Homo sapiens: one gene and its partners. The protein of the gene in region 3 interacts with the protein of the main gene of each other region in a pairwise test. Each region holds a gene or a part of one and is shown on either strand. Other genes may lie near its edges.

Region 1 (4,877 bases), about 48 Mb from region 3:
AAAAACTGATGAGAGGAATGGGGAAAAATCACTTTAATGAAGGCAGGAGAGCATTAATGGTTTCGTAGCCAAGAAGGAAAGCAGTGCTCATCCTTACCTCATGGAGCAGGAGTGAGAGGCCCTGGTTAAGAGAAGCTGGGATCTCAGAGTCACTGTGGGTCACACTTGCCAACATGGCCACATGATCTCTCTCTGCAGCCACTGGAAACTGAGTTAAGAGGTAGGGAGTGGAGGTAGGGGTAGGGGTTCATTCCTTAGTAGGAATACGGCAAGATTTCCTAAGGTCTTCCTTCTTCCCACCACAAGGCAAAGCTCTTCTCTGCCCAAAACTACTACTATTCTCTCACCTTTCCAGTCGCCAGAGAGAAAAGCAAGACACCCAGGGACCACCAATCAGCAGCATGGTTGTAAGGTCCTCCACTTAGGACCTCTGGGGCTACAGATTTCAAAGATACTCATCACAGACATCCTTTAGCTATCCTCCTGCCCAATGCTTACCCATCAGCTTTAACCTCTCTCACCCATGTACTGAAGAGTGCCACAGATAGTGTAGGCTTGAGCTCCCTGGGGCACGTGGCGGGACAGACCAAAGTCTGTCAGTTTCAGATGGCCTATGAAAGAAGGTAAGGCAACTGCACCACTGTTCCACCCATCATCAGCCATGATTTATTCCCAAACCAAAGTACCTCTCATCCTGGGGCTAAGGAAGGAAAAAGACTTACCTCGTTCATCTAGAAGAATATTCTCCATCTGAAAGATCACAGGTGAGAAGTAATTCTTCCTCTTCCTTTCAACTCTCTTTCATCATGTATACACCCCAGCTGAAGGTGATGCCCTACTCAGCACTCAAATCTATACTCAGAGAGCCCTTCCCCAAATCCTTGGCACCCATGGGGGCCCCAATGTCTACAGTTCTCAGCTCCCTAACTTCTTGGACTTGTTGGCACTTCTTATTGAGACTCTTTCTCAGACAAAGGGAAAAAAGCACTTAACTCTACCTTCACATCTCGATGCATGATGCCCAAGTCATGGAGATAACCTGTGGATAACAAGTATGGGGTATGCTGCAGCTTTTCTGTCCTTTCCAGTTTCCCTAGTAGCCCTCATCCCATCCCTATCCTATTCTTTAACTTCCATTATTAATATTAATTTTTTACTCTCCTTCTTCCGAACTTAAATCTTCCCTCCCCATTTCCTTTACCACTGTTTCACTTACACAGTACCAGCACCAACTCGGCAGCAAAGAGACGGATGGAAGCCTCAGGAAAGCAGCCAACAGCCGACCAAAGGGAGTACAGATCTGTGCTGCAGTAGCTACACACTGCAAAGCCAGTGTGGAGCTACATACATTGCCAGAAGTCTAGGCAATGTTTGGGAGCTGCAATGCCTGGGCTCAAGGCATTGTAGGCCTCCTGCCCAAACTGATACCACCTGCTGTTCCCCTCCCTTTGGGACAGAGAGGTGCCATGAGAAGGGGGACAGAGCAAAGGCAGAACAAGCCAAAGAGGTAATCTCAGGTGGGGAACATGGTACAAAGACCCTGGGGGATGAGGAGAGAGTCCAGTCACTCACTAATGAAAAGGTGCCGTTTTCCCTGCCAGCTGTCCCCCAAGCTGTGTACAAAGGGATGGTTGATCTGTCGCTAGGAACAAAGAAAACAGGAAGTTAGGGAGGAACAGGGTCATTGAGAATAAAGGCAGCTGAGAAATCAGGTTTTACCCAGATGTGCAGAGGGGGAACTGCTGCCTCACCTCTCAGTTCAGAGGAACTCAATATTTGGAACTGACTATCTGGTAATCCTAGAACCAGCAAATACTAAGGAATACACTGGGACATGCTTCAGAGATTTCCCTAGTAGGACATGGGAAAACTGTGTTGAGAGCTGATACTTTTCCCAGGATCTACTTTAGTGTTAAACTAGGCTGAAGCAGATGGATGAGGCAGAACCAGGAAAAGAAGGTGGGCAAGAAAGGTACTTTCCCTACCTGTGGCCTAGCTCTTCCCACAATCCTTTCCAGGACTCTGTGCATACCTGGATGCTAACCTCCTCTTTGCACTGCCTCACGGTATCCCTCTGTAGGACCTTTACCTTGGGCACCACCTATAAAAGGAGAGTAGTGATGACTCATAGATAGTGCTATTGAATTGTTTATTCCTCCCAACCTCTCTGGAATCAAGATTGGAAACAGAGACTAATGTGGTATCTACGCCCCTACCTTCACTGCAAATACAGCTTTCTGGGTGCAATCTAGCACCTTGAGGACAGTTCCAAAGGAGCCTTTAGCCACGAGGCCTAAAATCTGTACAGAGGAATGGAGAACAGGCCAGTTGAGACTGGTCATTTTTAACTTCTCCCAAAGACTGAGACCCCACTCAGGGATTCCACTGACTTACCTTCAGCTGCTGCTGCCCCCTAATGGGCCTAATGGGAAACTCTGGTAGAAAGAGGTTGATGAACTGAGGCACTGGCCACTCTGGCAGAGGCTTCTCTACCAGTACTGGGGCTGGCTTTAGGGATTCCTGGTGCAGATAGTGGTGCCCCCGTAGTTCCCAGAGTTCTTCCAGATCTGACCTGATGGTTCCCAAACCTGTCCAGAGGCTCTTCCAGCCTCGGGCCCAGGGACCCCGGATGTTGCCACCCTGCTGAGAACCAAGGGAGCCACTCTAAACTTTCTGCTCCTGAGGCATAGCAGGTTCCACCCATCTTACTAGGCACTCCCTCCCCTTAAGTCTCAACCCCTAGAGGTACATTTTTGAGCATGAGGCAAAATTCCCATTACCCTTGCTTTGTGCTAAGCCCCAGATTTCCTGGGCACAATTCAAATCCTCTAGGAAAATAATTGTTGGACATTTTCACCATGACGCATTAAGAGTACAGCCTGCACCTCAGTATTGGGCTGTGATGCTTTCATAGTACAGCCTCCCTGCCCCACCCCCACATTGGGTAATCACTTCCATGCTCCTAACCAGGAACTTCCCAGGACTCAAGCCCATGTCTCCCTCTCCTCCCCTCAGTAGGCTGCCAGAGCCCCACAGCCTACCTTGTGAGGGACAGCCACCCGGGTGTGTTCCCCCTGCTGGGTGTGCTGCCCCTGCCGACAGCTTACTGCTCCCATTCCCAGCCTCTGCCTCCTCTCTCTGCTAAATCTGCTGTCCCAGTTATATAAGCAATTCCTCTCCCTGATGCTGCGTGACACGAGCCCCGCCTCTTCCAGTCTGCAGAAACCCATCAGCATGGGGCCAGAGTCACACTAGGACTAGAAATTTCTGTGATACAGCTTCAGGGCAGAGGAAGGAAGGGGCCACCCTCAGAGTGGCAGCTGCAGGATGTTCTGGGTTGATGAGGGAGGAATACACAGATTGAATGCATGCACTCAACACACACACACAAAAATGAGCATCAAATTTAAAATATCTTTTTTTTTCTCTTTAAATCATTTTGCCATTCTCCAGGGTATATCCTACGGGGAAGGGTAGGGGACCCATGGCCAGCCCTGGCTCCTACTGCCATCCTCCCAAGTGAACTTAGCACAGAGACTGGGGAGGGGTTGACCCCCACTCCAGAACACCAATACCTCTTTCAAACATGACAGTGGAGTGAGGATCAGAGGATCAGCCCCCTCCCGTTTCCTGGCACAGAGGAAGGACAGTTACACTTAGAAATATATATATAATATATATATATTTATATATGTCTATAAAAATTTATCACACTTGATCAGGACTATCCCCCTACCCTTTCACTTGACCCCAAGGGAATAGGGTCCTGCCCTGGGCCCATTCCCTGGGTCTTGCTCTCTTGTTGCCTCTCTGGCCCTGAGCCTGATCAGTGTGAGACAGAACTCAGCATTACTGTCCACCATGCCCTGCAGCGAACAGACCAGGTGCTGAAGAGTGATGCCTATGGGCTCTGACACCCACAAATCCTCGTGGATAACGGGAAGCCCCTCCCACCCCACAAGTCCCTGGAGCCTGAGCCAGAGTCAGATCCTGTACTGCAGCCACTCGAATCGCCAAATCATTTGCGCCTGCCAAAGATGGACTTCTTGCCAGGGTTCTTGTCGCCCACACTTAAACCAATGAGGAGCCGGGCTTTCTCCTCCTCTTCCTGCTGTTGCATGTTCAGGTCCGATTTAGTTTCTAGCTTTCCCCGGACCTCAGAGCCTGTTGCAGACTTCAGCCTTAGCTTCTCTTTGATTACCTGGCAGATTGGAGAGGAGTAAAAGAAAATGTAAATATTAGTGGGCAGGCAGAATAAATCAAAATGAACCAAGACAATAAAGATTTATTAAACACATCCAAGGCACAATGGGGCAATTCACATACAATGGTCTCTGCTTTCAAGAAGCTTACAGTCTAATTATAACCCCTTCTAAACTTTAGGTTGTGTTAGCTCTCAGTTCCCTAAAATCAATGGTGCTATACGAAACACTCAGTAAACACTGAATTTAATAATCTGAGTGAGGTCATGGAGAGGGTAGGCATAGAAGCCACTCACTTCATGCACCTGCCCCTTCCCAAGGATATTTATTCATGGATTCTAAAATGAAAGGCTCCTGAAAAGAGGATCTGCCTGCCAGCCCCATTAGCCAAACAGCCATGAGCCCTGGCGGGATACCTGGGCAACCAGGGCTTTGCGGCTGTCCCTTTTGACAGCCATGGCAAAGTCTAGCCATGTCCATGTGTTGTTGTGGTACTCCAGACAGGGCAGCACCAGGTTAAGGTCACCCCAGTCCACACTGTTCTTCTCACCCTGTAAGAGGAGGGGGAGGGGAAAGAAAAAAAGAGGGGTGGGGAATACATCAGCTGCCATTTTGAGTCCCAGCCAGCCACTTGAGTGCCAAGTCCTACAATAGTAACCTACAGATACTGATTTC
Region 2 (4,131 bases), on a different chromosome or scaffold from region 3:
CTTCGTTATATGTCTGCTATGAGCTGACAGCATGGCAAACTGTGATGATGAGGAGGAGAAAGAGAGGGAGGAGGAGCAGGAGGAGGAGGATGATTCATGATTTTCTTCTTTCTGTTAGATCTTTCCCATCACATCAAACATGTCATGATGTCAGCCTTCTTAAAAAGTATCCTCTCTTGGCTTCCAAAGGCCCTTCTGGCTATGGCTCTGTTTCTCTGTTCCTCATTACAGCATAGCAGAACCCTCAGAAGAGTTGTGTATACTTGGGTGCACCAATATCCTTCATCCCATTCTTTCTTTATCCCACTTCATCAGGTTTTTACACCCTTCTCTCCATCAAATGGCCCTTGCCAAAATCCCCAGTGGTCTCCACGTTGTTAAATTCAGGAGGTGGTGAGTAGCAGGTACAAAGGCCCTGTGGTCAGGGAAGGGCCAGGCATGGTCAAGTTGCAGCAGAGACCAGTGTGACTGGAGAAAGTGAGGAAGGGGAGAGGAGTAGAAGTGAGGTGGGTGGGGAACAGGGAGCTAGATCACTGAGGGCCTGGAAAACCATTGCAAAGATATCAACTTTTACCTTAAATGAAAGAAGGATGTGGTGCAGGATTCTGAGCAGGGAGGTTAAGCAACAAGTCCATGGTCACAAAATGATGAAGTGTGGATTTGAACTTAAATCTTTCTGACTGCAGAGTCCTGCTATACTGTCAGCTCCAGCTGTATGACCTGGGATTGGCTACTTAACATTTCTGGACCTGAGTTTTCTCATCTGTGAAATGGGGAAACCGATTCCTACCTTGTAGAACTAATGGCATCCTTACATTACAAAGATTGCATTTAATAAACTGAACCATGATAATGGATTTCCTTTCCAAAGCTTAGTAATGCCTGACACAGAGTATGTGTTCAAAATATATCTGTTGCCTGAAAGTCAAATGGGAACTGCCATTCTCATAGCTGCATAGGGAAGGGATGAGACTGAGGTGGGAGAGGGCCGGGGACAGAGTAGGTACCTAACAAAGAATTGTTGGGTGAGTACCTAAATGTGTCCTGCCCTCCCCCTGGGCTGAGAAGGGCATGGCAGTTCCCCAGCTGTCCCACTGCTGTGGCCTGCACAGGGGTGCGGCTCCAGCTGCTGCTGCCCTTACCTGCCATGCCGCCCGCCAGCCACACGGCACAGGGGCTGGGGCCTGTGCAGGCCTCAGGTGTGATCCACTCACTCAGGAACACGTAGGGGATGAAGTAGAGGCAATAGCCTGGGACATCCCTCAGCAGCATGGCACTGGCCCCCCGGTATAGCCCCGCCAGGCCCTCATTCCTCACAATGGTTGTAATGCAGTGCACTGGCCCCTGGTATGCTGGCTGCTCCGCAGGAGCCACTGCCCTGGACTTCAAACCGAGGTTGGCTGCAAAGACAGGGGAGAGAAGGTGGCAAGTGACCCAGGGTGTAAGAGACTGGACATTCCGTGACACTGGAGCCAGCCCAGCCCTTTGACAGTTCCCTCTCATGTAGCCCATCAGCTTTTACCAAATCTGACCTTCTTGGCAGCTCAAACCAGGATACTGAGGTCCCAACAAGAGCCCCTGCCAATATACACAGCCAGACTGGGGACGATCTCAGCCACGTGATAGAACACCAGTTACTTTAGGTCAATACCACTACTTCTTTCGAAGCAAATGTGACTTCAGAATGTCTAGAATCAATTATGACAAGCCACACTAAGCTCTTCTTTGAAGCTAGAAAATCCAACATGCTGTGTGTGTGTGTGTGTGTGTGTGTGTGTGTGTGTGTGTGTGTGTGTGTGTCTGTGTACACATTTATTTATGCACAGTGTGGCGGAGCAAAATGTATATGAGATTTGGAGCCAGACTGTCCTGGCTGCAAATCCTAGCTCTACCGCTTATTGAAAATAATTTATAAATTATACATAAAATTTAAAATCTATAATTTAATATTTATAATTTTATAAAAATAAAATAAATAATTTTATTAAAATTATTTGGAAATAATTCGAAATTTACCTTGGCAAGGCAGCATTTTCAGCCCATTTCCTTATGTTAAAAGAGGGGGAGCTTGTCATGAGTGCAAATAAGGTAATACATGTACAGTGTTCAGCATGGTGATTTGAACATTGTAGGGGCTTAAAACGTTATCAACTGAGACCAAGGTTGCTGACATGAATTGGTGGCAGGACCCACAGGTTGGAGAGCTGGGTATATTCTCAGTGACTCACTCCAGCCCTGGCCAGGCTGTGCCCTAAACAGTTGTAGGGCAGCACTGGGGCTCTTGGCCCCTCAAAGTCCTGGGACCCAGGGCTGCTATCTTCTTGTCTAACCTCAGTAGTCTATGCTGGCAGCTCAGGGGTTGTTTGTCTCCAGCTTCTTCTAGGGGTGCACATAGCCAGCTGAGACTCTGCCTCTCTCTCATTTGCTACCCATCTCCCACTCTGATGCTTGTCTTCTCTGCTACGGACCCTTCTCTGCTATGGATCCTTCTCTACTATGAGGCTTTGACTCATGACCAGACAGAACTTCCAGACCCAGTGCAGATAAAGTAGGCTCTTGTTCTTGACTTTCCCTTCTCCAGGAAATAACATAATGTGACATGACCAGGAAAGAAATAGAATAAAGTGTGTCTGCGACCACAAGCCTATTTTGCCACCTGAGTTTAATTCTCTGTACAGTGTTCCAATCTGATTTTACACATGCTGGTAAACAGGCAGACAGCTTTCATCATATAGGTCAATGTCCAAGTCCCCCAAACAGTCCATCTTTATCAGAGGAAAGGTTAGAAGCATTCGGCTTCATGACTCCACAGTCTAGAGATTGGAGAATAAAGTGTAATCTGTACTTTAACTCATCCCAGAAGCAGGTGAGGTTGAGGGGGTGGTTTCTGCGTGCCTGGGAAGTATGCTTGAACAAACCCATGCTGTATTTTCCATCTTCCAGTGGGGAAGGGAGTAAACCCCTGCCATATCCATTAGGCCAACTTCAGTGTGGACAGGAGATGGAGCCAACTTCTTCCACAGTGGATCCCATAGGAGGTGAGCCGGGGTAGTAGCCACCTTTGGGGGCACAAGACCCCTCTGAGCAAGATCAGACATGATGGCCTTTGAAAGCCCACTGAGAGATCACTAGGCACCCCTTCCTCTTCCAGACCCATGGTGCTACTGCCTGGTTCATCTGGAGAAATTCTGCCGTTAGACAGAATAGATGTCATTGTCCCAATGTATAAATTTTGCCTGAACTGCTTTCATCTCCAGGCAAAACTGACTTGACCCAGGAGTCAAGGTTTTCATGAAGCAACTATGGGTAAATAGTGGCTTTCAGGAGTTACTGACTGAGGGAGAGGATCTTGATAACATTCTGCTTGTTTGAAAGTACAGATGGGAAAACACCCACCAAACCTCCAACTGGCCTTGTCAACAAAAATCCTGTACTGTTTTCCTTTTCCCTGCGGAGTAAGCAATAAGGAAATTCTCTCTCATTCTCCCAGGTTTGCCACATAACCAATCTAGCTTTTATTGCTTTGGAATTACCCATTTATGGCTGTTAGTGCAGTATAATTATCATGGTGACTCCCATCACCAGGATACTGACACAGCTCCAAACTGACCCAAGTTTATACTGTGAAGCTCTTGGAATTCTTTCTAGCTCCTTCATTCACAATATTTTTTTTTGAAAAAACTTTTTATTTGGAAATAATTCTAAATTTGCAAAAGAAGTATAAAAAGCAAAATAGTATAAAGAATGCCCATACATACAATTTACCCAGATTTATCTATTGCTAACAATAAGCAAATAAGCTCATTTGCTTATTGTTTGTGGGTTCTCTCTCCCACTCTCTTCACTTCCCTCCCTTCTCACTCGTGTGTGTTCAATTCAACTGAATCGATATAATTGTCCCAGTGTCTAAACTTTGCCTAAGCCCCATTCATTTCCAGGTAAGAGTGACCTGACCAGGAGTCAAGGTTTTCATGAATCAGCTATGGGTATGATGTGGCTTTCAGGAGTTATTGATTGAAAGAGGGGATTCTGGTAACATTGTGTCTGCTTGGAGGTGCAGATGTTGCAAAAACACCTGTCAAACCTTGAACTGACTTTGGCAACAAGACCCAAACTTATCCTTTTTCTTCT
Region 3 (4,131 bases):
ACAGAGAGGCCCTAGCTGTAGACATCCCCACCCCTCAGCCCCAGGCCTCACCTCCACCTTCCCTGAGCAGTCAGGGAACTTGGGGTCACTGGGTGCCTCACACTGGTCCCGCCGGCCTTCTGACACTGTAGGGAGAGGTCACCTTGCTGAAGTCCCTGGTCCAAGGAGGAGCCCAGGGAGGGAGGCCTGCGTGCGGGAGGCAGCTTCCCACACAATCCGCTGCCAGGCTTTCCCACCTTAAAGCTCATCAGCCGCACAACCCACCCACAAGGTCAACCCGGGCCTAGGTTGCCCCCGGCCTCCTCAGGGGGTTCAGATGCAGTGAGGAGCTGGTGCGAACAGCCACTCAGCAGCTGCCTGGATGGGCAGACCTCATGCACCCACCCGAAAGCATCCCCAGCGTTTTCTGAGGAGGCAGAAATGAGGTTTGCAGCCCCCAGCTCGCTGCTCCCCACATCACAGGGACTGGAGGGGCCGCCGAGGGACCCTTCCCCAGGTGGCCTCACTCCTGGAACTGTGGACCCCAGAAGCTGAGACTCCAGGGACCTCCTCTGTCCTCAGCGCCCTCCTGCCGGGTCGAGGGAGTGAACCCCCAGTTGTCCTGCTGAAAGCCTAAACTGGGGCCCCGAAGAGCCAGCAGAGCTGCTGTCAGGAGAAGTCGGCCACACCCCAAGTGTCCCACCCTCCCAGGGCCCACCCAGCACCCAGTTCATTGGCCCCCTAGGGGTAGAGGGTACCCCCGCCCCCTGGCACCCACCCTTGCTGTGCAGGAGCAGACTGTGGCGCAGGATCTGGTCCACCTTCACAGCGATGTCGGAGACGTTCTGGGCAATAGCCTGGATCCGCTCCATGAGGCCGGCCCCAGGGGGCATCCTAAGTGGGAAAAGCCAGAGGTGAGCCACAGAACCGGCCGGGGTGACCTTCCCATGAGGGTCCTGCCAGTAAGGCCCACAGGCAAAGGCGGCAGGCTCTGCAATGCCCCAGGCTCCCAAACCCTGACCCCAAGCAGACCAAATGGTGGGGAGTGAATCGGGTGAGAAGATGGAGCTGGCAGCCCACCCCATCCAGTACACACATTACAGACATACGGGAAAGCCCATATCTGCACATGTTGGTCACAACTGCATGTTGTGCCCACAACTGCATGTGTGATCATATCTGCAGAGAGCCCTTTAGTGGACATCCCCCACCCCTCGGCCCCAGGCCTCATGTCCACCTTCCCTGAGCAGTCAGAGAACATGTCTTCATGTGGCCACAACTGCACGTGTGCCCACAACTGTACAGGTGCCCACATCTGCACATGTCCCCACATATGCACACGTGCCCACAACTGCATGTGCGCCCACAACTGCACACATACCCATAACTGCACATGTAATCATATTTGCATGTGTGGCCACAACTGTACATGTGCCCACATCTGCATGTGTGCCCACAATGGCACGTGTGCCCATATCTGCACATGTGACCCTATCTGCACGTGTCAGGCATGTCCGTGCATTACTGCATGTGTGCTGAAGGGCAGTGCATGGGGCTGAAACAGGCAGAGGAATTCCATTCAAGAGCCTGGCTAGGTTCTGTCCAGGGGTCACACAGGTGACAGAGGCCTTTTCCTAGGCACAGCCGGGCCTCTCCGAGTCTGTCTCTATTTCCTCCCAAGAGGCCATATTGTGCCAAAATAAATTCTACCCGCAGAAGCCTGGGAACTTGCCAGGTATTAAAACTCCGGTAAATTATCACTGGCTTCCTGAGAACAAATCCTTCCCAGGATCTTAAAGGAGGTGACTGCCACCACCACAGCCCTCCACCTCACCATCGATACCAGTGTTGCTTTTATTTTTGGAGGATTTATTTCCTGTGTTGATTACTACTCAGCTCTCAGGGACATTTATTAGCCGTCATATGCAGTATTTATCTCATTGCAAACTTCTATTGAGATGGATTCCCCTCAGCTGGCAGATCTTCTCACACAAAGATAGCCCTGGGGGTCTTTCTCCAGGAAGCTGCTTGCCTTTTTTTTTTTTTAACACATTAATTCGGTTTCCTTTGATTCTCACCTCACCCCGTGGCTTTGCAGGCCCAGTTTAAGCTCCGTTTATCCCTATACAAGGTACTGGTCTTTATGGCTGCACATAATGGGAATTCGATGAAGGATTTTTCCAACCTGGGCTCCGTTCGGGTCTGCAAACCCCACCTCTCCTCCTCTTCTGAGCCTAGTGAGCTGTCCACTAGAGAAGGCATAGCAGGAACCCTCAATGGCCACCCGCCCTCTACAGCCATCACACTCTCCCACCTCCACCTTTCCTAAGGAAAGAAAGGGCAGTGGCCCCATACACATCGGGGGACTAGTCAGGGTGACAGGTGGGAGCAAAGCAGACACCGAAGTGGAGGGGACAAAAGGCAGATGACAGGAATGGGGAACAAGCCCCCCATGTACACACATGCACACACACATGCACACAGGCGTGCACACGCACACACTCACACACAAACACGCACGCACACATGTACACACGCACACACACACATGCACACACATGCACACACACGCACACATGCACACACAATCCAGTCTGTCCTCTCACTCTAGTTCAGTGCCCAAGGCAAACTTTGACAAAAACAAACAAACATAAAACTCTTAAAATAAAAAATGCCACCATTTTTGTGTTAGTTTCCTGGGGTGACTGCAATAATTTCCACAAACCAGGTGGCTTAAAACCACACCCATTTCTCCTCTGGCAGCTCTGGAGGCTGGAAATCAGACAGCGAGGTGGCAGCAGGGCCGGCGCCTTTAGACTCTAGGGGAGCCTCCCCCAGGCCTCCCTCCCAGCTTCCAGAGGTAGCAGCAGCCCTCAGTGTTCCTCAGCCCGTGGCTGCTCCACCCCGACCTCTGCCTCCGCCTTCACACGGCCTTCTCCCCTGTGTGTGTCTGTGTCCACTTTCCTCTCTTTATAAGAACACCAGCCATGGAACCAGGGCCCATCCAAATCCAGTAGCACCTCCTCTTAATTTGATTACATCTGCAAAGAGCTTATATCCAAATGAGGTCATAGTCACAGGTCCTGGGGCTAGGACTTGGACATGGCTTTTTGGAGCACAAAGTTGAATGCACGACAGCCTTCTGTGAGATTACAAAGAAAGAGAAGAGACGTAAAAGCTACCTGCTTCATTTGCTCAAAAAGTCCTCAGGAAGAAGGAAGTAGGAGTATTTTTCATCTATCCAAAACTCATCAAGGTTCATTACCAGTATGATACAAGGAGATGAGAGGAAGCTCAGACCCCTATGAGCTATGTGACCCTGGGCAGGTCACCGAGCCTCTCTGTGCTCACCAGTCTCATCTTTTAAGACATAAGGGCAGCTACCATGGTGAGGACTGAATGAAGAGAGCTGTAAAGTGCGTGGCCAGCGGCACCTGTGTGACATCAGCACTGTTTGCATTCGTGATCAGCACTGATATTGATGTGGTTGAAGCAGCAGCCACAGGGACTTGGGTTAGACCAGGGCACATCAACCTTTTCTCATTATTGCCCGTCTAGGAGGTTTCTTACAGCTAAGATTGTTTCAAGAACCAGTGTTCTCCCTTTTGGCAGTGATGTGCTCCCACCGAGAATGCCTGGGTTCCCTCCAAGAAGAAACATGCCGATTTGATGTCTGCCAGGCTCTGACATCAGTCCAGATGAAGCCCGTGGAGCTGCTTTCCATGCTGACCTACAGGGGCAAGATGGACACTCCTTTGACAGGAATGAATATTTTTTTATATACACAGAGAGAGAGAGGGAGAGAGAGAAGGGCTCTCACTCTGCCACCCTGGACAGAGGCTGGAGTGCAGTGGCGCAATCATGGCTCACTGCAGTCTCAACCTCCCGGGCTCAAGCCATCATCCCACTTCAGTTTCCCAAGTAGCTGGGACAATAGGCATGAGCCACCACGTCCGGCTAATTTTTTTTTAATTTTCTGTAGAAAATATATTGCCCAGGCTGGTCTCCAACTCCTGGGCTCAAGTGATCCTCCCGCCTCAGTCTCTGAAAGTGCTGGGATTACAGGTGTGAGCCACCATACCCAGCCTGGAATGAATATTTCAAGGACAGAGTGCAGAGGCAGGGAAACCTCCACTGCTGCAGGCTCAGAGC
Region 4 (4,131 bases), on a different chromosome or scaffold from region 3:
TGGCAGCACTCAACCATCAAAGGCAAGGTGGGTGTAGCTACCATAATGGACGGAAGAGGCAAAGCGGCAATCAGAATAGACTGACTCCTGTAGAGTGCTGGCACTGGCTAATTAATTACAGTGTTCCTAGAATTAAAATTGATAGGAAGCCTACTACATTCCTACCTAATTTTCATAAGCAGAAAACTTCTAGGTTGAATGGACAAGACTAATTTGAATTGTAAAAACAGAATCACGGCCCCTCAATCAATTTCCAGACTTGAGCCAGTTTACAAACCCAGAACCCCTTGAATAAAGGGAAGGCCAGGTCCCCTTGAGGAAGGACCCCACTACATTACTGACAATTTATGTAGTGAATCTTTTTTTGATATGCAGCCTTGCTCTGCCGTCCAGGCTGGAGTGCAGTGGTGCGATCTCAATTCACTATGCCGTGAATCTTTTTCCCATCCTTCCCTATGGAGACCTCTGGCCTTTTACCAAGGTAACTGTGTACTGGGGAAAGGGAAATGATCAGACATTTTGGGGACTACTGGACACTGGCTTTGAGCTGAGGTTGATTCCAGGGAACCCAAAACATCATTGTGGTCCTCCAGTTAAAGTAGGGGCTTATGGAGGTCAGGTAATTAATGGAGTTTTAGCTCAGGTCTGACTTACAGTGAGTCCAGTGGGTCCCCAGACTCATCTTGTGGTCATTTTTCCAGGACCAGAGTATATAATTGGCATAGACATACTTAGCAGCTGGCAGAACCCCCACATTGGCTTCCTGACTGGTAGGGTGAGGGCTATTACGGAGGGAAAGGCAAAATGGAAGCCATTTAGAGCTACCTCTAGCTAGAAAAATAGTAAATAAAAAAAAATCGCATCCCTGGAGGGATTGTGGAAATTAATGCTACCATCAAGGACTCGAAAGACGCAGGGGTGGTGATTCCCACCACATCCCTGTTCAACTCTCCCATTTGGCCTGTGCAGAAGACAAATGGATCTTGGAGAATGACAGTGAATTATTGTAAGCTTAACCAAGTGGTGACTCCAATTGCAGCTGCTGTACCAGATGTGGTTTCATTGCTTGAGCCAATGAACACATCTCCTGGTACCGGTATGCAGCCAGTGACTTGGCGAATGCCTTTTTCTCCATTCTTGTCCATAAGGCCCACCAGAAGCAATTTGCCTTCAGCTAGCAAGGCCAGCAATATACCATTACTGTCCTGCCTCAGGGGTATATCAACTCTCTAGCTTTGTGTCATAATCTTATTCGGAGAGACCTTGATCGCTTTTCGCCTCCGCAAGATATCACACTGGTCCATTACACTGATGACATTATGCTGATTGGATCCAGTGAGCAAGAAGTAGCAAATACATTGGACTTATTGGTGACACATTTGCATGCCAGAGGATGGGACATAAATTTGATTAAAATTCAGAAAACTTCCACCTCAGTAAAATTTCTAGGGGTCCAGTGGTGTGGGACCTTTCAAGATATTCCTTCTAAAGTGAAAGATAAGTTGCTACATTTGGCCCCTCCTCAAACCAAGAAAGAGGTACAATGCCTAGTAGGCCTATTTGGATTTTGGAGGCAACACATTCCTCATTTGGGTGTGTTACTCTGGCCCATTTATCGAGTGACCTGAAAGGTGGCCAGTTTTGAGTGGGGTCCAGAACAGAAGGCTCTGCAACAGGTCCAGGCTGCTGTGCAAGCTGCTCTGCCACTTGGGCCATATGACCCAGCAGATCCAATGGTGCTTAAGGTGTCAGTGGCAGACAGAGATGCTGTTTGGAGCCTTTGGCAGTCCCCTATAGGTGAATCACAGCAGAGACCTCTAGGATTTTGGAGCAAGACCCTGCCATCTTCTGCAGATAACTACTCTCCTTTTGAGAGACAGCTCTTGGCCTGTTACTGGGCTTTGGTGGAAACTGAACATTTGACTATGGGTCATCAAGTCACCATGCGACCTGAACTGCCTATCATGAACTGGGTGCTTTCTGACCCATCTAGCCATAAAGTGGGTCATGCATAGCAGCATTTCATCATCAAATGGAAGTGGTATATATGTGATTGGGCTCAAGCGGGTCCTGAAGGCACAAGTAGGTTATATGAGGAAGTGGCTCAAATGCTCATGGTCTCCACTCCTGCCACCCTGCCTTCTCTCCCCCAGTCTGCACCAATGGCCTCATGGGGAGTTCCCTATGACCAACTGACAGAGGAAGAGAAGACTAGGGTCTGATTCACAGATTATTCTGCACAATATGCAGGCACCACCCAAAAGTGGACAGCTGTAGCACTACAAGCCTTTTCTGGGACATCCCTGAAGGATAACGGTGAAAGGAAATCTTCCCAGTGGGCAGAACTTCGAGGAGTACACCTGGTTGTGTACTTTGCATGGAGGGAGAAATGGCCAGATGTGCGATTATATACTGATTTATGGGCTGCAGCCAATGGATTGGCTGGATGGTCAGGGGCTTGGAAGAAGTATGATTGGAAAATTGGTGACAAAGAAATTTGGGGAAGGGGTATGTGGATAGACCTCTCTGAGTGGTCAAAAACTGTGAAGATATTTGTACCCCACGTAGGTGCTCATGAATGGGTGACCTCAGCAGAGGAGGATTTTAATAATCAAGTGGATAGGATGACCCGTTCTGTGGACACCACTCAGCCTCTTTCCCCAGCTGCCCCTGTCATTGCCCGATGGGCCCATGAACAAAGTAGCCATGGTGGTAGGGATGGAGGTTACTCATAAGCTCAGTAAAGTGGACTTCCACTCACCAAGGCTGACCTGGCTACAGCCACTTCTGAGTGCCCAGTTTGCCAGCAGCATAGATCAACACTGAGCCCTCGATATGGCACCATTCCTTGGGGTGATCAGACAGCTACCTGGTGGCAGGTTGATTATACTGAACTTCTTCCATCATGAAAAGGGCAGAGGTTTGTCCTCACTGGGATAGATACTTACTCCGAATATGGGTTTGCCTATCCTGTATGCAGTGCTTCTGGCAAAACTACCATCTGTGGGCTCATGGAATGCCTTATCCACCATCATGGTATTCCACACAGCATTGCCTCTGACCAAGGCACTCACTTTATGGACAAAGCAGTGCGACAGTGGGTTCATGCTCATGGAATTCACTGGTCTTACCATGTTCCCCATTATCCTGAAGCAGCTAGATTGACAGAATGGTGGAATGGCCTTTTGAAGTCACAATCGTAGTGCCAACTAGGTGACAATACTTTGCAGGGCTGGGACAAAGTTTTCTGGATGGCCATGTAATGCTCTGAATCAGCATCCAATATATGGTACTGTTTCTCCCATAGCCAGGATTCACAGGTTCAGGAATCAAGGGGTGGAAGTCAAAGTGGCACTACTCATCATCACCCCTAGTGATCCACTAGCCAAATTTTTGCCTCCTGTTCCTGTGACATTACGTTCTGCTGGCCTAGAGGTCTTAGTTCCAGAGGGAGGAACACTGCCACCAGGAGACGCAAGAAAGTTTCCATTAAACTGAAGTTAAAATTGCCACCTGGACACTTTGGGCTCCTCCTACCTTTAAGTCAACAGGCTAAGAAGGGAGTTATAGGTGCCCACCACCACACCCAGCTTATTTAAAGAAAAAATATTTTTAGTAGAGATGAGGTTTCACTATGTTGGCCAGGCTGATCTCAAACTCCTGACCTCAAGTGATCCGCCTGCCTGGCCCTTCCACAGTGCTGGGATTATAGGCATGAGCCATTGTGCCCAGCCTGACCTAGCTGTTCTTTTAAAATTTACCAAGACTATTTTTGTTATTTCCTCACAGATTTCATATGGCAATGGAAATTACCTTCACATCATTTTTTTGCAAATGGCTTCATGCATCCCATTGATCTGCCTTTATGTCTGCCGGCTCCATCTAATAATCAGAGCTGGACCCAGACTTTACCTGCTCTAGGAAACATTCCTTGATTTAAGACTCACAAATATACATATAGTACATCCACCCCTGGTGCCTTCTCTAACCAATTATTTACTCAAAATCTCCACTTAGATGTTTCATAGTTCCTCAAACTCAACATGTCCAAACCTGAACACAAGACCTACACTCTAACCACTCATATTTAATTTCTTTACCCAAGTTTATCTAGGTCAGTGAATGGACACC
Region 5 (4,131 bases), on a different chromosome or scaffold from region 3:
CTACCAGTGGCCTCTCGGCAGGAACACTCTGGGCAGGTGTGTCCCTGCAGGGACTGCCTGTGTCCTCTTCTGCTTAAACCTTGGAGCTCATTTGGGAGCAGATAGCGGGGGGAGTAGGGTAGGGGCTGGGCAGGGGAGAGAGATGTCTATCTGGGCTTCCAGGTGAGGTGGCCAGATGATGTGTTTAATAGGCTGTCCGGAGGGAGAAGGCAGGGAGCTAGCAGGCTCTGGTTTGGATGATATTAACGTCTGAAAGAGGCCCAGACTGGCTTGCAGTGCCCGGTAAAGAGATGAGCCTAGGCCAGGCGTGGTTGCTCACACCTGTAATCCCAGCACTTTGGGAGGCCGAGGCAGGTGGATCACCTGCGGTCGTGAGTTCGAGACCAGCCTGACCAACATGGAGAAACTCTGTCTCTACTAAAAATACAAAATTAGCTGGTCATGGTGGTACATCCCTGTAATCCCAGCTACTCGGGAGGCTGAGGCAGGAGAATTGCTTGAACCTGGGAGGCGGAGGTTGCAGTGAGCTGAGATTGTGCCACTGCACTCCAGCCTGGGCAACGGAGCGAAACTCCGTTTCAAAAAAAAAAGCCCAGCCTGCTTGGGCCTGTATTCACTCTGGGCATGAGAGTATGAGTGGAACCCAATATACTTCTCCTTACATCCTAGAAAGTTATATCACCTTTCATAAAATGAAACCACTTGAAGATTAATTGAAACCATCTTAATGTAAAAGCATTAGGGGAAAGGCTGCTGGGTACTCCTAAGCAAGACTCTCCTACTGTGTTTTGGGGGTTTATGTACCCCACTCCCTGCAGACAATATGCTTCTGAATCAGATTGTATTTTACGGAAGAAAGAGGCAGTTAGAAATCAGATGAAAATGGCCAGGTGTGGTAGTGGGCTCCTATAATCCGAGTGACTCGGGAGGCCAAGGCAGGAGGATCGCTTGAGCCCAGGAGTTCAAGGCTGCAATGAGCCATGGTTACACCATTGCACCCCAGCCTGGATAAGAGAGTGAGAGCCCGCCTCTTGAAAAAAAAAAAGAAAAGAAATCAGATGAAAACTCTTTCAAGGGAACCTGAAAAAGAAAGCTGGTTACAAGTTCTGGTTTCTGCATGATGTCATGGTGGCTGTTTCTAATGTCACCTGCCTTCAGGCTTTCCTTCCTGCAGTTGTAGGGGCAGGTCAAGGTTTCCTTAGAGCCTAGAACGAGCCTGACTTATTGGTCAGAGTGAACATGTGTATAGGACCTTGCTAGGCTTGACCCAATCAGCAGGGCTGGGGGTGGTATCAGGTGTCTCAGCCACTTGGAGTTTGGATCTGCTGCCAAGGAAAAACCGTATATTTTATGAGGAGTTCTGAAATTCTCTGCCAGCATCTCATCTGCCCTCTGCTGTACAGCTCACCTCAAGATTTTCCCTGAGGCTGTGGCTCTCCTGTCCTGTCACCAGTCCTGCTTCTTTCTTTTTTTTTTTTTTTTTTTGAGACAGAATCTCACTCTGTCGCCCAGGCTGGAGTGCAGTGGCGCGATCTCGGCTCTCTGCAAGCTCCACCTGCCAGGTTCACACCATTCTCCTGCTTCAGCCTCCCGAGTAGCTGGGACTACAGGCGCCCGCCACCATGCCCGGCTAATTTTTTGTATTTTTAGTAGAGACGGGGTTTCACCGTGTTAGCCAGGATGGTCTTGATCTCCTGACCTCGTGATCTGCCCACCTCAGCCTCCCAAAGTGCTGGGATTACAGGCGTGAGCCCCATGCCTGGCCTCCAGTCCTGCTTCTTTGGGTTCAGCCCTATGCTATAAAATCTCACCTTCCTCAGGCCTTTTGCAGACACATCAGATCCTCTGGCTTTGTATCTGTTCTTGGTGCTTTGGACACCACCTCCACCCCAATGCCTTTGTTTTTCTCCAGGCCCTCTTTCTTCATTTATTCATCTGCCTCTGCATTTCTGTAACTTTCTGAGTAGTGGGTGCTCAGGTTGTTCACGTATCTTCATCAAGAAGTCTGTCTGGGATAAAGCAGAAGTTGCAATGATTGCCTTCTGAATCACCCCTCAGCTGAGGAGCACCAGCAGGCAAAACCAGTCCACTGAGCTTGTAAGCAGGTCTGTGGCATCAGCTTATTCTTGTTGCTAGAGAGAATTTGGAGTAGGTGCTACAAGGTGCTTCCCTTCTGCCGTCAAATGTAAGATTCTTAATGAATGTCCCGATTTAATCTGGGCTGCGTTTTCCACTCCCTTGTACCACACCACTCACAGTTCAGTATGGCGGCTCCGGCCTGGGCTACCTGGAGCATGTGCTGGTGATGGAGGAGATATCCCGAGCTTCCGGAGCAGTGGGGCTCAGTTACGGTGCCCACTCCAACCTCTGCATCAACCAGCTTGTACGCAATGGGAATGAGGCCCAGAAAGAGAAGTATCTCCCGAAGGTGAGGAAATGGAAATGTAATACACGCTAATCTCACAGTGCAACCACCAACTAAAAGATACCCTCTCCCCTTGGGGGCCAGTCAGACCTGCTTTCTGTAGCATGCTGCCATGAACCAAATGTGGTTAGGAAGGGGCCATGGATTGCTTTAAAATACTTGAGCCAAAAATAATAAAAATAGGACCAGAACTCTTGCATTGAACAACAGACAGACAACATTTGAAGAGAACTCTAAGAAATGGAAGAGTAGGACTAGCTTCCTTTGCAAAGGGAATGGAAAAAGGAGAGGCATTTTCAGCCTTGTAGCCATTGGGCTTAGAAGAGACTTCTAGGACTTTACCGACACCCTGGTCTGAGAGCGAAGTTTGAAGGGGTTTAATGTGGACAGGAAGAGGCAGTACCAGTGAGCTGCTCTAGGGTACTCTGAGGTTGTAACAAGGCCTGTTGGGGGTTTTCCTTGCAGCTGATCAGTGGTGAGTACATCGGAGCCCTGGCCATGAGTGAGCCCAATGCAGGCTCTGATGTTGTCTCTATGAAGCTCAAAGCGGAAAAGAAAGGTGAGGCCACTCTCAACTTGGGAGCCAAAATGGGCAGAGGTACAGACATTATCAGGATAATGGAGCAACAATTGTGGGTGGCCCCTGCTGGGTTTCCAGAACTTTCTCAAAGGTGGACAGCTTCTTGCTCAGCAGAAGGTCTATGGCCTGGCTGAGACAGGCCAAGATGGCTTGAGCAAATAGCCAACATCCTGCCCTTAGGAAATCACTACATCCTGAATGGCAACAAGTTCTGGATCACTAATGGCCCTGATGCTGACGTCCTGATTGTCTATGCCAAGACAGATCTGGCTGCTGTGCCAGCTTCTCGGGGCATCACAGCCTTCATTGTGGAGAAGGTGAGTATAGGTGGGTGCAGGGCCAGGAGGCTTCTGCCTCCTGACAGTGGTACCAGAGATAGCCCGTTCACTGATCTCAAATGGAATCAGTGTTGTGTGCTCTGCAAGGCCCCCAGAGGTGGGGGTGAGGCAGAGAGCAGACTGCAAGGAGGGTGACCAAAAGTCCAGGAAGTCCAGGGCAGATGGGTCACTTCTGAAGACGGTGGAGCCGTCCTCAGCGCCAGGCCACACAAAGAGGTCTAGAAAGGGGAGGACTAAAAGGAGGTCAGGACATGACGGTCAGGGTACCATTGGTGGATCTGATGAATGTGGCCATGGGAGACTGAGGTGTGGGTGGGATGCAAGTGGAGACTGCCCCTGCAACAGCCTTGACAACAGAAGCAAGAAGGAAGCAGAGCAGGAGTTCCAATGAAAAGTTAGGAGTTTGGGTTTGTTTTTAGAAATGAGAGAACTGAGCAGATTTTTTGGTCAGAAGGAAAAAAAAGGGAAGAAAAAAGAAAATAGAGGGAGAAATTGAAAAGTGTGGGAATGAGTGGGCAGAACACAATGGTGAGCTGGGGCAGAAGAGAGAAGGATGGGTTACAGGTGATGGTGCAGGAACCACTTGCCTAACGATCATGAGGAGGAAGCCAGGGGCCCTGTGAAGGCTGGGGCCACGAGTGGGGGAGTTGGCAAGAGTTTCATGAGCGAGTATTGTAAAGGTTTGCGGTACCCTCCATAGAGAGGGGGAAAGTAGCTGTCTAGGGTTGGAGCAGTAGGGACCTGGCTGAGATTGGAAATCTCAAGGTTGCGTGATGCCACCCTCATTA
Region 6 (4,625 bases), on a different chromosome or scaffold from region 3:
TCTCTCAACTTTACAGGTGATGGGGGCATGAACGAAGATGCCCACTGACATGCATCCTGGGGCCAGGCCAGATCCAGGAGAAATGGGAAGCGGGTGGGGAGGGGAGGCCCGATTCAGCCTGTGTCTGGGCCCAGGTTTCCCTCCAGATAGATAGAGGGAGGCAGGCCCCCATGGCTCCTTACTGCTTGCCGGCACGCTCCATGGCAGCACGGATCCCCTTGGGAACGCTGATCACGCCCTGCACAAGATGCTGGCCCAGTAGTTCCTCAGCTGCAGCTGCCATACCCAGCACAGCCTTGCCAAAGCCCACCAGGTAGAGGTTTTGCCTCAGCTGAAAGTTCCGGTCCCGCACCTTCAGCTGTCTGCCACCAGGGTCCAAGGATAGTGCCCGGTGCAGCATGGGGCCCGGCAGCACTGCACCTACAGCACTCTCAAACAGCTGCCTGGCCTGCTCTGCCAAGGCCATGCTGCTGGCCAGACGGGCCACTGAGCCCCGCCAGAGGAGTGGATGCAAGGGGGCTCGGGCCAAGCGGGGCAGGACCTGCAGGGCTGCAGCCATGCCCCACTGCTCTCAGCACTGCCTGGCACCCATGGCTGCCTAGAGGGAAAAAGCACAACTGAGGCCCTTGCAAGGCAAAAGACAGGAGGTCCCCCACGGCCGCCCCTCTGAGGGCTCAGGGCCAGTGGACCCCACAGCTGCTGCTACAAGAAGGAGCCATCTGATAGCCCCAGGAGACTTCCTGAAGCCTGCAGCTGCAGGATCTTACTCGTCCTTGGAGACCAGCCCTGCCACCCAGCCACGTCCTCCTCTTCTGCAGACCACATGCCGGCCCTCTGGATACTCTGCCTCAAGTCCAAAGTTCCTATTAGCTGGGCCCTCCTCCCAGGTCACCCCTTTGGCTGGGAGTTAATCATTGACAGAGGGAGTAATTTCTACCAGTGGGCTCCCATCCCACCCCTTTTCCACCCCCTGCACTTCTGCGCTGTTACCCTGGGGCAACGCCCCTTTCTGGCACTCCTTCCTTGCCTCTTTACCACCTCTGCTGCCAGGAAGCTGTTGATTGTCCCACCAACTGACCCTGAGCCCATTGACCTCCAGTCTTCTCTATTTCATTATCTCATGAGACTGGGATTAGGAGCCTGGGAAGTCAGGGTCTATAGGAGGCTGCAGGTTTATCAGGTCAAACCCAGAACACATCCTCAGGGCAAGCAATCTGAGGAATCTCAGTATGCAGGACCAGTTCAGCAAGAGGTTTAGGTTCAAATCAGGAGTGAGGGCAAAGTCTGGCTCATGGTGGAACCTTAGAAAAGTCCCCAGGCACCATGTGAGGCCATGTGCCATGAAGCCCAATTGCAGGACAGAAAAGGATGCCCTTCTACCCACACAGTTGGCCAGACCCAACCCTGCCAAGAACACGCCTTCTGGTTCCAAGATAACAAAAACAAGTCCTAGGTCACACCACCCACAGTGGTGAGAGCCCAAGGGCTGAAGTAGGCAAAGGCCAGGCTCCCATAACTGAGCCCATAGCCATTTTCCCCACTGGGCAGAGTAAAAGCTAAAGAAGCCTTGGGGCGAAGGTCAGGAAGCTGTAGAGGGGTATAGGAACAACAAAGACCCAAACAGCTCATCTGTACTACATATGTACTATTGCATCTACTTTAATAAATGCCTACCATAAATGTTGCAAGCTGACTTCATCAGCAAGTATGGACTGAGCAGGGTAAGGAGGCTGGGAATTGAGGTTCCAGCTCTACTATAGGCTTTCTGAGTGGCTGGGACACCTCCATTTCTCTCACTGGGCCTCATCCGCAAAATGAGACATGGGGTGAGATTAACACTACGCTCTTCCCTTAACAACCTCAGGCTCTCTGATACTGTCCACTGCAACACAGATCTCAAACACCGGTTTACCCCACACCCAAATATGGTGGTTACTTCTAGACTTTGACCATTTTGCTTGCCTAGTTCTCAGCTCTCCGGTAAGAAAAGACAGCCATGCCTGACTTCTGTTGTGAAAGGGAACACAGAGGGCATCGTCATGGGGATTCCGAAAATGGGTCCAGTTTTGGCCAGGGGGACCCCTGGAGCTTGCCCATTGGACTTGGAGCTAAAAGCATCTTAGCAACTAAGACAGCCGGTCTTTATAGCCTGGATGAAATTTGTATCTATTTCCCAGATGGACAAGAGCCTAGAAGATCCCAGCCTTGCCACTGGGTATGAGCACAGGACAGGGGGACGCTCAATGCTAAGGCTGCCAGAGAAAATACAGGACTTCCGGTTAAATTTGAATTTCAAATAAACAAGTAATTTTTAAAGTATAAGTATGTGCATACAATGTTTAGGACTTAACAATTATTCGTCGTTTATCTTAACTCAAATTTAACTGGACGTGGCCCGGCGCAGTGGCTCACGCCTGTAATCCCAGCACTTTGGAAGGCTGAGGCGGGCGCATCACCTGAGGTCAGGAGTTCGAGACCAGCCTGACCAACGTGGTGAAACCCCGTCTCTTCTAAAAATACAAAAATTAGCCGGGTGTGGTGGGCGCCCGTAATCCCAGCTACTCGGGAGACTGAGGCATGAGAATCATTTGAACAGGGGAGGCGGAGGTTGCAGTGAGCCGAGATCGCGCCACTGCACTCCAGCCTGGGTGACAGAGTGAGATTCTAACTCAAAAAAAATGTAACTGGACGCTTTGCATTTTTATTTGCTAAGTCCTCCAATTCTATCCAAGACACGGTCTCTCCGAAACTCCGGGAGGCTCCAGAGCAAAACAACGGAAATAGGAAGACTACCGGTCTTGACTCCTCCCCGCCATCAAAGAAGGCTGGTACCATTTCCGGCTTTCCCTAGACAGTAGGGGGCCGGAAGTGACGTCATCCTAAGGTAGGGCCTTAGCGAGGGAAATGGCTGCCGCGTAATGCCCGGTGATGCGAGAAAGAAGGGCCTGCTGCCACCAGGACCCGTCATCGCCCAGCCCAGGGACCGCTTCTGAAGGCCATGCGAGCCCTGGCGGCGCAGACTTACCAGCCCACAGCTCCGGCCGCGGTGCCCAGCGCTGGAGAACGGAAGTACTAGGGGGTGGGCGGAGCGGAAGCCGGAAGTGTGGGTGGGTGGAGCGGCGCAGGCGGGTGCGAGCTCTGGCTGAAGCCGGTGTCCGGGAGGGGAGAGTTTAGCATATTGGCTCTTTGCTGGCCACTGACAGACCTGGAAGGAGTCACCTTCAGTCCTCATTTTTTAAATCTCTACATTGAGGGTAATAATCCCCGCCTCACCGATTGCCGATTTTTTTTTTGAGACGGGGTCTCATTCTGTCGCCCAGACTGGAGTGCAGAGTCGCGGTTTCGGCCCAATGCAACCTCCGCCTCCCGGATTCAAGCGATTCTCATGCCTCAGCCTCCCGAGTAGCTGGGATTACAGGCATGTGCCACCACTCCGGGCTAATTTTTGTATTTTTTAGTAGAGACGGGCTTTCGCCATGTTGCCCAGGCTGGTCTCGAACGCCTAACCTCAAGCGATCCACCCACCTCAGCCTCCGAAAGTGATGGGATTACAGACTTCAGCCGCCGCACCCGGCCTCTCCCTTCCTTTATCCTGTACGGTCAGTCAGCAGATGCACCCTGAGTGTCAGGCACTGACTGGGCTGAGCAAACGAACTGAGAATCACTACTTCCCCACAACTCACCCCTTCTGGAGCCAGATTAAGTAATTCCCGCTCCTCTCCATGGCTTTTATTCCACAACTTATTATTGTTCTTCCCTCTCCCACCATGGGCCACCAAATACAGCTCTGGCTTAGCAAGAGTTCCATTCTGCGATCCTCAAGCACATAAGCGGCATGTAAACGCTAATGACTCTGGGCCTACCTCGCTGTCCCTACTCTCATCCGGGGCCTACCCTGTGTTGGCTGGATGCCTTCCCACATTCATAAGATGAGTCCTGATCAGACTCCAAAAATACAAAACAGTTCACTGTTTTTACTGATGTTTTCTTAGGGAGATAGAGGAGAGAGTTGCATCACAAATCACACACTTGATTTCCTAACAATTTTATTGAAACATGTTTCTTGGCAGGGCGCAGTGTTTCACGCCTGTAATCCCAACATTGGGGAGGCCAAGGTGGGCGGATCGCTTGAGCCTAGGAATGCGAGACCAGCCTGGGAACATGGCGAAACTTATCTCTACCAAAAAAAAAAGAGCCAGGTGTGGTGGCATGCTCCTGTAGTCCCAGCTACTCAGGAGGCTGAGATGGGAGGATCACCTGAGCCTGGGAGGTAGAGGCTGCAGTGAACCTTGATCACGCCACTGCACTCCAACCTGGGCCCCTGTCTCAAAAAAAAACCAACAAACAAAAACACATTTCTTTCTCTTGGTTTTGAGGTGGAGTCTTGCTCTGTCACCCAGGCTGGACTGCAATGGCACAGTCTCAGCTCACGGCCACTGCACTGCAGCCTGGGCACGATGTCGGCTCACTGCAACCTCCGCCTCCCAGGTTCAAGCAATTCTCCTGCCTCAGCCTCCCGAATAGCTGGGACTACAGGCGCCCGCCACCACGTCCAGCTAATTTTTGTATTTTTAGTAGAGACAGAGTTTCACCATGTTGGCCAGGCTGGTCTCGAACTCCTGACC
Region 7 (3,210 bases), on a different chromosome or scaffold from region 3:
CACCCAGAGATGCAGTGACAGAGCAGAGCCTATGGCCGTGGCTGCCAGGCCTTGCCCCGCCCCACTAGGGTGCAGCCTCCAGACGCAGCCCCCTCACTCCCACAGCTCAACTTCATCCTCTTCATCAATATCGTCCGGGTGCTCGCCACCAAGCTGCGGGAGACCAACGCCGGCCGGTGTGACACACGGCAGCAGTACCGGTGAGCCCACCATGCCTGCCATGCCCTGGCTCCTCAGGGGTCCCTGAGTCCTGGTACCATGTACCCCAGGAAAGACAGTGGCCCCATGAATGATCCTGGGGCAAGGGAAAGGACCCAGCGTCTGACTCCCTGGCTGTCCTCACCCACCTGGCCTGCCCAGCAGTGATGGGAGGCCCTAGGGCACCCCAAAGCCAGCCTGCCCACTTGTACCAGGCCCTGCACTAGAGCTGGAGTCTGTGAGTGTGCAACGAACTTGAACCTCTCCTCAAAGAGTTGGTTGCAGGGGGTCTGAGGAACAGGTAGGCGGTGAGTGGCCCCGGGAAGGCTGCAGCTCAGCTGAAACCTGAGGAGCGGACTGTGGGATAGTGAGGTTCGACCGTGGAGGGGAGTGCTTGCCAGCTGAGGGCTCCACAGGTGCGAAGGGCCCAGGGACAGGGGGACTGTCATTTGAAGTCCGCTCCGGGACACCGCTGAGAACCAACGGGCCCTATTAGCACTTAGCCAGGACAGCAGCCATGCAGGTGAACTGGGTTGTCCTCCCATGGTGACTGGAGCCCTGGGCCCCTTTGAGCTTCCGGAGCCTGGGGCTCGCAGGGTGGGGGGTGGCACAATGCTTGTTGAAGGGGAAGTGGCTTGGCCCTGACCTACCTGCCCCGCTGGCCCAGGAAGCTGCTCAAATCCACGCTGGTGCTCATGCCCCTCTTTGGCGTCCACTACATTGTCTTCATGGCCACACCATACACCGAGGTCTCAGGGACGCTCTGGCAAGTCCAGATGCACTATGAGATGCTCTTCAACTCCTTCCAGGTGCGCAGTGCTGGCCCGGGCCTGGCTGAGGGTGGGAGGGGTTCCGGGGGCAGGCCTGATTCGAGACACCCCTCTTCACAGGGATTTTTTGTCGCAATCATATACTGTTTCTGCAATGGCGAGGTAAGCAGGAGACAGTGTTGGCATAGGGCAGGGTGGGGCAGATACCCCAGAGGCTTCCTCAAGGCTCATTTCTCCATTCTTCCACCCTGTTATTTCTTTGTTCCTCCAAGAACACCCCTGAGGACATTCTGAAAGCAGAGAAGTCTTTCCAGATGATGCAGGTTCAGGATGTGCTAGGATGTGGGGACTCTTCAGTCACTGGCATAGCCAAGTGTCTTCCCAGCCCCATGGTTCAATTATCTGTGACCCAGATTGGAGGACTCAGCCACCTTTGGGGCAATTTGAGCCTTGTAGATTCTGGGTGTGTCGGCTGCCTGTAGCCAAACACCCTGTTGTGAGGATGGGATTTCACTTGGCCTTGGAGTTTCCCAGGAGTCCCCTATTCCCATTTTCATTCCGTGCTGGGTGTCCAGGGGCCGGGATGGGGCATCGCTGGGGTTGGGAGACACACCTGACTGCCGCACCCTTACTGCCCCAAGGTACAAGCTGAGATCAAGAAATCTTGGAGCCGCTGGACACTGGCACTGGACTTCAAGCGAAAGGCACGCAGCGGGAGCAGCAGCTATAGCTACGGCCCCATGGTGTCCCACACAAGTGTGACCAATGTCGGCCCCCGTGTGGGACTCGGCCTGCCCCTCAGCCCCCGCCTACTGCCCACTGCCACCACCAACGGCCACCCTCAGCTGCCTGGCCATGCCAAGCCAGGGACCCCAGCCCTGGAGACCCTCGAGACCACACCACCTGCCATGGCTGCTCCCAAGGACGATGGGTTCCTCAACGGCTCCTGCTCAGGCCTGGACGAGGAGGCCTCTGGGCCTGAGCGGCCACCTGCCCTGCTACAGGAAGAGTGGGAGACAGTCATGTGACCAGGCGCTGGGGGCTGGACCTGCTGACATAGTGGATGGACAGATGGACCAAAAGATGGGTGGTTGAATGATTTCCCACTCAGGGCTGGGGCCAAGAGGAAAAACAGGGAAAAAAAGAAAAAAAAAAGAAAAAGGAAAAGGAAGCGGTGTGTGGCTTCCTGTGGCCCAAACTGGGGACTCACTCCGAGAGGGTGGGGCTGGGAGCCAGGGAAAGCTGTGGCGGGAGGGCCATGAGTCATGGAGGAATCCTCAGGTCTCACTTCAGAATGGGGAGGGATCTGGGGCCTGTGGTATCCAGCAGAAAGGGCCCAGAGTGGCTCAAGTCTGCAGGGGTCACACAGCAGCCAAGTGGACCCATGTGGAAATCCAGCCTCAGCCTCCGTTGCTGCCAGCTGTGGAGCTGCTCTCCACACTTGTACCTAGACCCCATGGGGGACCCAGGCTCCTCTGGGCCAACTCTTCTGACTGCTGCCCCCATCACTGCCACCCAGGGCTGCTGGCAGATCCCTCGGGTCCCTGGCCACACCCCCAAGCCTACGGCCCTGCCACAGAATGGACCTTTCCTGGCTGTCCAGTGGCCACTCAGGGAGCCCTCCACGCAGGAGCCTTAGCATCCACCCGTGACCTGACATGCCTCTGTGACTGAGGTTGCAGTAGGAGCACCAGGCCAGCAGGTGAAGGGTGGGCTGGGTCCCTGCTCTGGCTCAGGACTTGTGGGGAGCCAGGAGTCTGAGCCCAGAGGGCTGGCTGGGCAGGGGCCTGCAAGGTGGGACACATCCATTCACTATGCATCTGGGACAGTCACTAAGTGTCCTCACCTGACACCCACCTACCACCTTACTCACCCCCCCGGACCGTGCCCTCTCCCACCTTGGGCCATTCGTGGGCCCCAGAGTGGCACAGAGCCCCTCAGCCCGACACCCTGAGGACTGACCCTACAGCATGCCCACCCCGGGCTCTGGCCTGAACGAGCTTCTTGCTCTTGCTCCAGCCTAAAGACAGCCCCGCACGAGCCCTGCCCTGCCTTCCCATCTCCCGCTCAGCCCGTCTTACTCTTCTCCACGGACTCGGCATCCAGGAGTGCACCTCATCTCCAGCAGCCCACACACACCCCATAGGGCATAGGGGAGGGGTCAGGAGGCCCAAGACAAAAAACTCAGGTGGGCGTTAGGAGGTGTGGGTGCCTGCTGAGCAGCCCCACACCCAGCCCTGCC

What was found.
Region 1: the proteins of MGAT5B (region 3) and RSKR interact in a two-hybrid assay, tested with the Homo sapiens proteins (one large-scale study listed by BioGRID).
Region 2: the proteins of MGAT5B (region 3) and SLC25A48 interact in a two-hybrid assay, tested with the Homo sapiens proteins (one large-scale study listed by BioGRID).
Region 4: the proteins of MGAT5B (region 3) and PLEKHG7 interact in a two-hybrid assay, tested with the Homo sapiens proteins (one large-scale study listed by BioGRID).
Region 5: the proteins of MGAT5B (region 3) and IVD interact in a two-hybrid assay, tested with the Homo sapiens proteins (one large-scale study listed by BioGRID).
Region 6: the proteins of MGAT5B (region 3) and GLYCTK interact in a two-hybrid assay, tested with the Homo sapiens proteins (one large-scale study listed by BioGRID).
Region 7: the proteins of MGAT5B (region 3) and PTH1R interact in a two-hybrid assay, tested with the Homo sapiens proteins (one large-scale study listed by BioGRID).

Annotation. Positions count from the first base shown.
Region 1 is NC_000017.11:28,611,046-28,615,922, forward strand, and holds the start of RSKR (ribosomal protein S6 kinase-related protein), read right to left. Parts: upstream 3,141-4,877; 5' UTR 3,117-3,140; coding exon 3,042-3,116; intron 2,644-3,041; coding exon 2,395-2,643; intron 2,301-2,394; coding exon 2,217-2,300; intron 2,102-2,216; coding exon 2,033-2,101; intron 1,643-2,032; coding exon 1,573-1,642; intron 1,322-1,572; coding exon 1,217-1,321; intron 1,040-1,216; coding exon 999-1,039; intron 751-998; coding exon 723-750; intron 612-722; coding exon 522-611; intron 437-521; coding exon 348-436; intron 209-347; coding exon 98-208; intron 1-97. Other genes in the region: BLTP2 (bridge-like lipid transfer protein family member 2 isoform 1 precursor), read right to left, coding at 4,019-4,201, 4,619-4,753.
Region 2 is NC_000005.10:135,868,730-135,872,860, reverse strand, and holds part of SLC25A48 (solute carrier family 25 member 48), read right to left. Parts: intron 1,401-4,131; coding exon 1,143-1,400; intron 1-1,142.
Region 3 is NC_000017.11:76,899,297-76,903,427, reverse strand, and holds part of MGAT5B (alpha-1,6-mannosylglycoprotein 6-beta-N-acetylglucosaminyltransferase B), read right to left. Parts: intron 874-4,131; coding exon 758-873; intron 126-757; coding exon 52-125; intron 1-51. UniProt on the Homo sapiens protein: Glycosyltransferase that acts on alpha-linked mannose of N-glycans and O-mannosyl glycans.
Region 4 is NC_000012.12:92,709,364-92,713,494, reverse strand, and holds part of PLEKHG7 (pleckstrin homology domain-containing family G member 7), read right to left. Parts: intron 1-4,131.
Region 5 is NC_000015.10:40,408,370-40,412,500, forward strand, and holds part of IVD (isovaleryl-CoA dehydrogenase, mitochondrial isoform 1 precursor), read left to right. Parts: intron 1-2,258; coding exon 2,259-2,428; intron 2,429-2,890; coding exon 2,891-2,984; intron 2,985-3,185; coding exon 3,186-3,322; intron 3,323-4,131.
Region 6 is NC_000003.12:52,286,277-52,290,901, reverse strand, and holds the start of GLYCTK (glycerate kinase), read right to left. Parts: upstream 3,075-4,625; 5' UTR 3,026-3,074; exon of another isoform or gene 599-3,025; 5' UTR 560-598; coding exon 183-559; intron 1-182.
Region 7 is NC_000003.12:46,901,661-46,904,870, forward strand, and holds the end of PTH1R (parathyroid hormone/parathyroid hormone-related peptide receptor precursor), read left to right. Parts: intron 1-105; coding exon 106-200; intron 201-865; coding exon 866-1,007; intron 1,008-1,088; coding exon 1,089-1,130; intron 1,131-1,609; coding exon 1,610-1,996; 3' UTR 1,997-2,139; downstream 2,140-3,210.